3 linked regions of the Homo sapiens genome follow. The protein of the gene in region 1 purifies or fractionates together with the protein of each later gene. This does not show direct contact. Each region holds a gene or a part of one and is shown on either strand. Other genes may lie near its edges.

Region 1 (3,751 bases):
TCACACCCCTGCACACATTCTTATCTTTTTTATCTTTCAACTTTATTGAGGTATAATTGATGATTTAAAAATTTCAGGGCTGGGGCCGGGAGCAGTGGCTCACGCCTGTAATCTCAGCACTTTGGGAGGCCGAGGCAGGTGGACCACAAGGTCAAGAGATAGAGATCATCCTGGCTAACACAGTGAAACCCCGTCTCTACTAAAAAAAAATACAAAAAAATTAGCCGGGCGTGGTGGTGGGTGCCTGTAGTCCTAGCTACTCGGGAGGCTGAGGCAGGAGAATGGCGTGAACCCGGGAGGCAGAGCTTGCAGTGAGCTGAGATCGCACCACTGCACTCCAGACTGGGCAACAGAGGGAGACTCTGTCTCAAAAAAAAAAAAAAATTTTTCAGGGCTGGGCAAGGTGGCTCATGCCTGTAATCCCAACACTTTGCGAGGCAGAAGTGGGCGGATCACTTGAGTCCAGGAGTTCAAGACCAGCCTGGGCAACATGGTGAAACCCCATCTCTACCAGAAATACAAAAATTAGCCAGGCGTGGTGGTCAGTAGTCCCAGCTACTGGGGAGGCTGAGGTGAGAGGATCACCTGAGGCCGGGGAGGTTGACGCTGCAGCGAGCCAAAGTCATGCCACTGCACTCCAGCCTGGGCAGCAGAGCAAGACCCTGTCTCAATTTAAAAGGAAAAAGAAAAAAAAAGGATTTCTTTTTGGCTAATCACCAAGCACACTATCAGTATGTGGATTTGTTTGCCCCAGCCTTGAATGAACCAGCCAATGAGGAAATCAGGATGAGGTTCCTAGGGGATAGGAGGAATTGACGGTTTGACTCAGGGAAAGCTCAGTGGAAATAGAGTATCCACTGACATGTACAGGCCAGAGATGCAGGGAAGATGAAAGCACATGCATGAATTATGCTGAAGCTCTTTTTACCTGAAATCATCACCAGAGGGAGTTTCTGCATTTGTGCCACTTGGGCTTCCGTCCTCACTGTCCCCTCGTTGCTGTGCCAATCTACAAGCCACAAAACCAATAGTGCTATCAATTATGGGCTCTAAACCAAGAGGAGTATGGGGGCCTGGCAAGCAGGGTAAGGCAAGGAGTCAACTAAAAATGCTGCAAGGTGGAAGTGCACTGCCTATCCTCATGACAAGGAAAACCCATACAGCAGTGCTGACAAGAGCCCCTTCTCTCTCCAGGCCACTTAACGGGTGGAGGAAAGGCTAAATACCCAGAAGGTTCAAGGAAACTCCTTTAAAAACCAAACTTGACAAGGCCAAGAAGGTTCCAGGAAAGTCAGAAGGAGGAAAAAGAGGAATCAAGAACAGAGGAAAACCAGAGGGTGGGGATGGGGGTGTGTGTGACAGAAATGGGAGAAGTGGGGAGATAATGACAGAAAGGAGAGGGGACGGGAACTGAAATTATTGAGCATGCGGGGCACTGCGCTAAACAAAGGGCAGCCGCGAGAGTAAGAGGCTGGGATGATATAGGGGCAGATGAAGGGCACAGGCATGGTTGGGCCAGGCATACAAGTCCACGACGGGGGCCAGGAAGAGCAGCGGGAGGCGAGGAGCGCCCTTCAGGCCAGAGACCTTGGCTGGGAGAGGAGAAGATGGCTTTTAGGAGCGGCCGGGCCGCTGGGCCGGGGGTGGGGTGCAAGGCCGGGCGGCGGGCCGGGGGCGGGGCCGCAGGGGCGGGCGGGCTGGCAGGCCGAGCTGGGCGCCAGCACCTGCTTCCGCGATAGCTGTAAAGACAGTAGTGGCTGCTGGACGGCGGCTCGAGTCTCCGCTCCTCGGCTGAGCCTCCCTCTTCGCTGCTCTCTAGTTCCTTTTCATCTCCATCCATCGACTCCTGCAAAGAGGGGAGCATTGCGGCGGCCTCTGAGCGGCCCTGTGTCTCCGCCAAACCGCTCCCCTGCTCCCGTGCAGCCGTCGGTATCAGGGCTCGTCCGGCTCCCGGCCCTCGCACACCTGCGTTCCGCTGGTTTCCCCGGGTTCGCAGGCAAGGACTGGCCTGGAAAGGGAGTCTCTTCTCCCCACAGGGGCTGACAGGCGTACTGAGTTCGCCTTTACTGACAAGCTTTTACCATTTATTTTGAACTTATTTTCCTTTGAGACATCTGGGAAACTTTCTATGTGATAAAGGTGGCACAACTACCTAGCCACATGGAAAAGAATAAGGCTACTCGTCTGCCTCCTTGCGCGCGTGCCAGCACGCACAGACACCCGTTTGATCAAAAAGTTAAGAATTTAAAATGAATTTTGTTAAAGTGAAAATATGGGATAATTTTGTTAATTCTTGAAGAGGGTCTTTCCAAACATAACAAAACACTTAGAAGTCATACAGGAAAACGTTTAAAAAAATGACTACGTAAAAACTAAAAGGCCGGGCACGGTGGCTCACGCCTGTAATTCCAGTGCTTTGGGAGACCGACGCAGGCGGATCACTTGAGGTCAGAAGTTCAAGACCAGCCTGGGCAACATGGTGAAACTGTGTCTCTACTAAAAGTACAAAAAAATTAGCCACGTGTGGTGGTTCACGCCTGTAATGCCAGCTACCCTTCCAGTCTCTGCCCATTACCCAGTTCTAACACCAATTCACATTTTCAGGTGTTTGTTTCTGCAACACCCCATTCTCTGGTACCAGTTTTCTGTCTCAGTCCATTTTATGATGCTATAAAAGGATACCAAAGACTGGGCAATTTATAATTAGCTCTTAAAGGCCCCACTTCTTAATAGTCTTACAATGGCAATTACATTTCAACATGAATTTGGGAGTGGACAAACACTCAAACCATAGCGCCACGTGAAGGAGGAGGCAGACTGGAGTGATGTATCTACAAACCAAGGAATGTCAAGGATTGATGGTCATCACCAGAAGCTAGGAGAGGACATGGAACAGATTCTCCCCTAGAGGCTTCAAGAGAGTATGTCCCCACCAGCACCTCCATGTCAACTTCCAGCCTCCAGAACTGTGAAATAATACATTTCCATTGTTTTAAGCCACCGTGTGTGTGTGCATGCGTGTGTTTTGTGTTTTTTTTTTTTATTTTTAGTAGTGCAAACTTTATTCATAAATAAAACTTCATAAAGTTAAAAGCAGGGGCAGTTCCTATTTTTAAAAAGGAATAGTGGAAGGCAACCTGCCATTTCATTTAAAATTACAAGTTAGGTTTTTCAGATGGATAACAGTTGAGATCGTTAAATCCCCTTCCTGCTTCTCAGATTTTCACAAAATAGCACATTAAATCCTCAGTCCTAAGCAATTATGGCAGAGATTCCAAATTGCCTCTCCATATCAAAGTGGATAGCACAGTTTCTTCTCTTGCAATAAAGGTACTCATTTGATGAACAAGTGAGTATAGCAGTCAGATTCTTAAAAGATTGTATTGCAGAAGTTACTGCCATGTCTTCATTCGCAATGGGTATCCTCACCTCTATCTCCCATTCAGTAACATTGTCAGTTTCCTTATCTCTCATTTCAACTACATTTAAAAGAGGATTCTGATTGCGGACAACACATGACAGAGGCATTTCAGATCGGCAGTAGTCTCTTGAGATATACTTGATTTTAGTTTTAAGCAGAAGAACTTCCTGGAGAGGTTGAGTTACCACAGTCATGAGGATGGTAGAAAAACTCATAGTAGATATTTGGCAAAACTAGGTTACAAGGCAGCCATCTCCTAGAAACACTTCATCGGGGTTCATATACAAATTGTGAAATATCGTGGGTTTAATCCTGGCACAGAACCAAAAC
Region 2 (3,751 bases), on another chromosome or scaffold:
TAAAATACATCGTGTAACTAAAATCAAAGTTATTGTTTTAAAAAAATTCAACTACTATAAACATAAATGTTAAATGAAAGAAAACTTTTCAAATGAAGATTTAGGCACTCTGAGGAATGACAACTATGACACAACCTTTAAACAACCAAAGTAATTGCAAAAGACAACCTGATAACAGATTAAACACACACCAACCTACCTAAATATTTTTCAAATATGTAAGTCAGTAAAAATTATAGTGGTAATCTTTAAAGTTCTATAGTATTTCTATTTTTTACTCATGTATATTACTTTGTTTTTAGAGAATAGATGTTGAAATTGTCAACTGAGTACTCTTCATTTTCTGATAAAAGCTACATTACACCATTTAAATGAATTATTGTCCAACTTCATTTTCTAAAATAAGAAGATCTTGACTTGTGGATTTCACCTCTCCAAGCCACCTATCATGACAATTAGATTCAATTATACTCTTTCCTGCTAACCCAGTTTGTCTCAGAACCTTTACAACATTGCCTCTTAGCAGCTACTCACAATGGATCAGAGCTGGTATATAAGATAAAACCTACATGTCATCTTTAAGGAGTAATACATATCCATTTTAGAAAATGTAGAAAGTGAAGAAAATTTTGCAAAGTCATCATAATTCCACCACAAAAACCAATCACTATTAACAGAATATAACATGAGTGTGTGTATGTTAGGAGTGAGAGAAATGCAGAGAAATTTTCTGTAGACATACATTTTTTAAAATCTAGGTTCATACTCCATATCAGCATGCCCATTTCACCACACCCTCACCTCACCTAGATTACTAAATAAATATAATCAAAACATGTGCCCAAAATGTTTGCCTGTGACTAATTTCTGATCTAGTGAAATTTAATTTTGAAAAATACAGCAAAACCCTTAAACTAGCGATCTCTATTCAATCAACAAATATATACAGAACAATTACTGTGCTCATGTGTGGAATAAAAGTAAGATATGGTAACTATTTGCTGACAGCTTAAAAATTGATATGAAAATATGACAGCGAATATAAACCCTCACCTCTCTTTTCTGCAAAGGCCATGTGCAGCAATTTTCCTACAAACTTTCCGGTTTAATTCGGAACTGAACAGTGGAATTCCAAAGCACAGCTCGAGAGGAACCCAATCTGCTTCTGTTGTGGCACCTAAGAAAGGATACATAAACTTATTTTTTTATCATATATATCTACTTATGTATATATTATATATAACTGACAAGGGTTTCTTAACCTGAAGTTCATAGATTCCTCCTGCCCCACTGATATCCACCAGTGGGCTTGGCAGGGGAGGAAGAAATTGAAGGGGGTCAGTTAATCTCTAAACAGGATAGGCATTTTTAGGGTATAAACATGTGTCTGAGAAGGTACATAGCTTTCATCCAATGTTCAAAGTAGTCATTTGCCCAAAAAAGAGTATTGCAAGATATCTGTAAGATGAGAGAATGAATCAAAACATTTACCACAGGAATAAGATTATTTTCAAGTCATAATTTTATAATACTTGAATTATTTTTCTAAGTATGTAAAAAGGCTTCCTAGAAAACTCTTATTTAAAAGTCGTATGAATAATAAGAATAGACAAATGGCATGCAAATGCCTTAACATAAAAGTTAAACCTCAGAAATTAGTCTAATAAAATTGGAAAAAGTTTTAGCACCATACCAGAGGTTTGCTTTGTTGCTGAATCTATAGTTGCTTCCTCAATGACCATTTCAAATGACTCTGTACTCCCATTTACATCTGAGCCAGAAGCCAAATCAGGTTCTCCTTATAATTAAAGGGCATACACAATATTAGGATTCTAGCAGTTAGCAGAAGCTGCCAATAAATCAGTCCTAACATGGAAAAGACTTCAGACAATAGTAATGATGACAGAAAGAAAATGCATAATCCTTGGCTTAAATAAGTGGTTTTAAACAGGGGAGCAATTTTGATCCCCAAGGGACACGAATGAAGACAGGGATGCTATTCGTATCTATGAATGCTAAACATCTGACCATACACAGGACAATCCTCCACAGAAAAGAATTAGCCAGCTCAAACTGCACATAGTGCTGAGATTGAGAAACCCTGACCTAAAGAAACAAAATTCAAAAAGGAGGACCCAAGTTACTGAAGCCAATTGCACCCCTGTGGAAATATATAGTCTGATTATGTTATTACTCTTCAAAGTTCTTTTCTGACTCATTATCTTTCAGCACAGAAGATCCTCCAAGATCCCTTAGACCTTATCTACTTCTCTACTCTCATCTTCTACTACTGTCCAACAAATCCTTTCTTTTGGCCACAATGAACTACTGTTTTCTAATTCCCCTCTGCCTGAAAGGCTGCCACCCTCCAAAAACACATTATCTTTTGTCTACCTAACTCTTCAATTTTCAAAACTCAAACTTCACCTTCTCTAAGAGGCCTTCTCTGTGCTGTGTTAGCGCTTTATGCAGACCCCATCATAGTCAATAACACCACACTGTATACTGACTCACTCGTCTCCTCTCTAGGGTTTTCATCCTTGGAACAACATTGTCTTTTTTGTTTCTTTTTTTTTTTTTTTTTTTTTTGTAGAGACAGGGTCTTGCTCTATTGCCCGGACTGGTCTCAAACTGCTAGCCTCAAGCAATACTCCTGCTTTAGCCTCCCAGAGGACTGGAATTACAGGCATGAGCCTGTACCTGGCCATGCCTGGCCTGGTCTTATTAAATTGCTCCAGCACCTAAGCAGGTATTCCATAAATGTTTGTGGAATGAATGACATAAAAAAGGAGAGCTGTAGTAGATACGCTTTGAAATGACTGCTTAAGTCATAGCCCTCTTCTCTAGAAAATGCTCCTGCAATATTTGGCAGTCAACTATTTGGCCAAAGACAAATGAGATAGGAGTAAGTACCTATCTCAATGGGAGCCAACCCAATCTACTGGATGGCAAGTAATCAATCACATTTCCTCAGAATTTCAAACTAAGAGGCTCATGGAATACTGTCAATCAATGGGAGATAATGAAAGATCTCCCAGAGTCAATGGATAAGAACTGGCACCACGGCAACCCAAACCACATATATGCCAATATTATGCCAGAGCAGAAACAACTAGTAAGCATGAGAAGGTGATTTGAAAATGGATTTTCAAATTAAAAAAAAAAAAAGTAAGTGATATCTAAGGAAAATTAGCTATTGTCAATATGTAGGACAGACTGGAGATAGAAAGGAGAGGCCAGAAAGGCTAAGCAGGGAATGGTTGCAACAGCACATGTTTAAGGTTTAAAGTTCAAGACCCAGACAAGAAGAGCAGTCACAGAGAATTTAAAATGAAGAGAAAGGGGAAGAAATGGACATGAGAGACTTATCTAAAGCCTAATTCACAGAACTTGGAAACTAACTGAACATAGTGGAAAAAGGAAAGAATGAGACAAAGGTAAGATTTTAGACCTAGATAATTAAGACAATGGTACCTTTTGACAGAAAAAGTTGAAAGGGAAAAACTATTAAGTCAATTTTGGAAACACTTGTATAAAGAGACTTGAGTTTTGAAACCATCACCCTATAAAGCTAACCTAATAAAGCCTAATAAACACAGATATGACAGTAGAGCACCCAAAAGTCCCAAACCATTCTGTACCCCAATCCTATTTTCTTCATTTGAACAACTGACATTTGTCCAAATGATGTTCCAAAATATTTCCTCGTGCTTCAGTGAAAGAATATTGAGTATTCAATAATTCAGCATCC
Region 3 (3,751 bases), on another chromosome or scaffold:
TGGTGAAACCCGGTCTCTACTAAAAATACAAAAAATTAGCTGGGCATGGTGGTGGGTGCCTGTAGTCCCAGCTACTCAGGAGGCTGAGGCAGGAGAATGGCGTGAACCCAGGATGTGGAGCTTACAGTGAGCCGAGATCATGCCACTGCACTCCAGCCTGGGCGACAGAGTGAGATTCTGTCTAAAAAAAAAAAAAATCCAAACTCCTTCGTAATCTTACAAAACTTCAGGACAGACAGCTGAATCTCTCTGGCTGCCTCTTATTTCATCACTCCTACAAGTGTCCCATCTTTAGCCATCTTTATGGCACGCTACTTACTTCTGTGTATATTCTTGCTTTTCCCTGCAATGCTCCTTGTCAATTTTTTACTTGGCTAACTACTGTCTACTAGTCTTGAAACTGTAGACTTCTGTGACTCTCCTCACAACCAGGCAATATGCAGCTCCTCTGTTTTCTCACAGCGTGTTACGCAAGTCTCACTTATCACACTATCACGCTGTGAGTCTTCCTTATAAGATGGAGAATTATCTGAGGGCTTTCATCTCCATATCCATAGCATATGGTAAGTGCTCAAAACTAAGGAATGACTGAGTGGTCTTGTAAATGGTAGAACTTTCATCTGCCTTAAAATGATCTAACAACTAGCATTTAATAACTCACCCTGTATTGACATTAAGTCATATATATGAAAATTCTAGGCTACCCCAAATAGGTTGTTATATTTAAAAGCTATTCAACACTTACACGTAAGACTTAATGAGAGCTTAGTGATACACAGTATTAAACTTTAGACTAGACAACATGTTAGCGTCAAAGTGGGATTTTACTTACCTTTACAACATCAGCTTTATGCTTTTCTAAAACTTGAAGAGTTTGGGCAGTAATGGAATCAATCACTACCACAAGTGAATGACATCCATAAGCAATTAAACCTTGCCAGCCCCTAGCAAAACAGTAATGTTAAAGTTTAAGTACAGAACAAAGCAGGACGACTTCTTTCTTGCCAAGCCTAAATAAATGATAAGTCTAATTCATATGTACCACCATTAATAAAATCATTTAAACCCAAAGGCCAGTATTTATCATTATCCCACTTAAATAAAAGATCTGGCTAAGCTTAAAATGCTTGTTGAAATTCACTTTTCATTCGGATAAAAAAAGTTCTAAAAGATATGAAAATAGAGACCCGAGGACATAAAAAGGAACTTGTGCCCTCTGACTGTTCTTGTAGGCATACGTCTTTCGCTTATCCGATTTCTAATCCTTAGTATCCACAATGTGCCTGGGGATACTGCGACTAATCCTAGTCCTTCCAACTAAATAAAACGACAAACACTGCACAAGACGTTTCAGTCCTCCTAACAACATCCCACAGCCACAGAATTTTGCTTTACATTTGTCTAATGAGTAGTTTTCAGAGCTGCAGTAGTAATTTATAGTGAAAGGAGAGAGTAATAAAGACGACCTGTTGAAGGCAGGAATGTTCTACACAGGAGGAGCCCGAAAAGAGGTGAAAAGGACAGGTGAAAGAACAGGCGCCTAGCACAGGGTCTGGCACATTGTTGAAAGACAACAGGAATACAAGACAACGAAAAAGAAAAGACAGGATGGGAAAGAGAAAGTGCACAGGGAATTAATGGTGGAGAGAGAGAAGCCTGGAAGCTGGAGGAGAGGAAAAGAGAGAGGAATGGAACGGCAAAAGGGCGAGGTGCAGAGAAAACAGCAGAGAAATACGCGAGAAAGAGGGGAAATGTATTTGCATGGGGGAATTTCCCACACGGGGCTATTATCACTTTTGTAACAACAAAAATCCACCAACTGAAAGCAAGCTCATTGCGTGAGGGCGGCTCCCTGCCTTAGCGAGGCCAAACTAACCAGGGGGTGAAACCTCTTGTCCTTCCCCCTTCCCCCTCACACATTCCTGGCCGATCCTGGCGACCTGGAAGCTCGGCGTCCTCACCAGTCCACCGCCGCCTTGTTGTGGGCGTTGAGGGCCCCCGTGAGGGTGCGCGCCGACACCTTGAAGTTCACTGTGTAGGGCAACATCCCGGCGGCCAGCCCAGGACCTGGGCGCTGACCCGCAACCAGGAAGCGGCGGACACTGTGCTTCCGTTCCAAACAGAGTCCGGGTGGCCCCCTCGGCGCCGCTGTCAGGTTCCTCTAGATTCAAGTTCTACAGGCTCCGGGTTCCACCGCTCCCGGATTCCATCGCCCCCAGGTTCCGTTGCCTTCAGTTTCCTAGGATCCTAGGTTCCGCACTCTCCAGAGTTCCGCCGCTTAGGCGGTTGTGCTAATCTGCGTCAGCTGGGGCTGTATTTGGAAGAAGAGGCGCTGCCTCCAGTCAAGTCTGTTTTTTTCAGGTGGGGACTGTAGGCCTTTGTGCCCTGCTGGAAATCGTGAAAAGCAAGAGAGAAGAGTCCCAGTTATTCTTGCTGCCTTTGATAAGTGAATTTAGGGCAACTACTAGTGCCAGTAGGCATGGGGGATCTACCGATGAAGAAGACACAAAGTCTCCGCTCTCGTGGAGTTTACAGAGAATAATGAATGAGATTAATTAAGAAATGAATGAGATTAATTGAATGAAATTGCCAGACTGAATGAAGTGAATGGCCTGAATATAAACAATTTCCAAATACAGATAACACTGCATATCTGGTGTTTGCAATACTCCCTTCGCACTTGAGGAAGAAGCACTATGTCTGGGGCCAAGTGTGACCCTTTGTCTGTTGCTGGGTACCTTTCATTTCGCACTTTCTCCTCTGCTGCTCTCCAGGTCAGACCCAGTCCTTCCCTCCTTTGTGTTCAGTGTTGGGTTTATACGCTTTAACTATAGCACTTAATGCAATGATTTCTTTTCAGCAATGATATTTGCAGATGTGTGTTTCTCTCCCCAATACATTGTTAGTTTCATGCGCGTCCGTGTGAAGAGACCACCAAACAGGCTTTATGTGAGCAATAAAGCTGTTTATTTCACATGGGTGCAGGTGGGCTAAGTCCGAAAAGAGTCAGCGAAGGGAGATAGGGGTGGGGCTGTTTTATAGGATTTGGGAAGGTAATGGAAAATTAGTCAAAGGGGGTTGTTCTCTGGTGGGCAGGGGTGGATCTCACAAAGTACATTCTCAAGGGTGGGGAGAATTACAAAGAACCTTCTTAAGGGTGGGGGAGATTACAAAGTACATTGATCAGTTAGGGTGGGGCAGGAACAAATCACAGTGGTTGAATGTCATCAGTTAAGGCTGTTTGTACTTCTTTTGTGGATCTTCAGTTACTTTAGGCCATCTGGATGTATACATGCAAGTCACGGGATGCGATGGCCTGGCCTGGGCTCAGAGGCGTGACATTCCTGCCTTCTTATATTAATAAGACAAAACAAAATAGTGTTGAAGTGTTGAGGCGGCGAAAATTTTTGGGGGGTGGTATGGAGAGAGAATGGGTGATGTTTCTCAGGGCTGCTTCAAGTGGGATTAGGGGTGGCGTGGGAACCTACAGTGGGAGAGATTAAGCTGAAGGGAGGTCTTGTGGTAAGGGGTGATATTGTGGGGATGTAAGAAGAAACATTTGTCGTATAGAATGATTGGTGACGGCCTGGATACGGTTTTGGATGAATTGAGAAACTAAATGGAATAAGAGAAGGAGAAAAACAGGTATAAAAGGTCTAAGAATTGGGAGGACATAGGACATCTGATTAGAGAGTGCCTAAGGAGATTCAGCATAGTCCTGCCAGCAAAGATTATTTATTTACTTCAAGAG

Evidence for each region.
Region 2: the proteins of C17orf75 (region 1) and FAM91A1 purify together in Homo sapiens (affinity purification with mass spectrometry; 3 studies listed by BioGRID and IntAct, with this or other methods). This does not show direct contact.
Region 3: the proteins of C17orf75 (region 1) and WDR11 purify together in Homo sapiens (affinity purification with mass spectrometry; 3 studies listed by BioGRID and IntAct, with this or other methods). This does not show direct contact.

Annotation. Positions count from the first base shown.
Region 1 is NC_000017.11:32,340,276-32,344,026, forward strand, and holds the start of C17orf75 (protein Njmu-R1), read right to left. Parts: upstream 1,899-3,751; 5' UTR 1,865-1,898; coding exon 1,725-1,864; intron 1,679-1,724; exon of another isoform or gene 1,526-1,678; intron 1,010-1,525; coding exon 929-1,009; intron 1-928. UniProt on the Homo sapiens protein: As component of the WDR11 complex acts together with TBC1D23 to facilitate the golgin-mediated capture of vesicles generated using AP-1. May have a role in spermatogenesis.
Region 2 is NC_000008.11:123,806,319-123,810,069, reverse strand, and holds part of FAM91A1 (protein FAM91A1), read right to left. Parts: intron 1,799-3,751; coding exon 1,694-1,798; intron 1,178-1,693; coding exon 1,054-1,177; intron 1-1,053. UniProt on the Homo sapiens protein: As component of the WDR11 complex acts together with TBC1D23 to facilitate the golgin-mediated capture of vesicles generated using AP-1.
Region 3 is NC_000010.11:120,849,717-120,853,467, reverse strand, and holds the start of WDR11 (WD repeat-containing protein 11), read right to left. Parts: upstream 2,107-3,751; 5' UTR 2,048-2,106; coding exon 1,962-2,047; exon of another isoform or gene 1,941-1,961; intron 1,704-1,940; exon of another isoform or gene 1,467-1,703; intron 945-1,466; coding exon 833-944; intron 1-832. UniProt on the Homo sapiens protein: Involved in the Hedgehog (Hh) signaling pathway, is essential for normal ciliogenesis.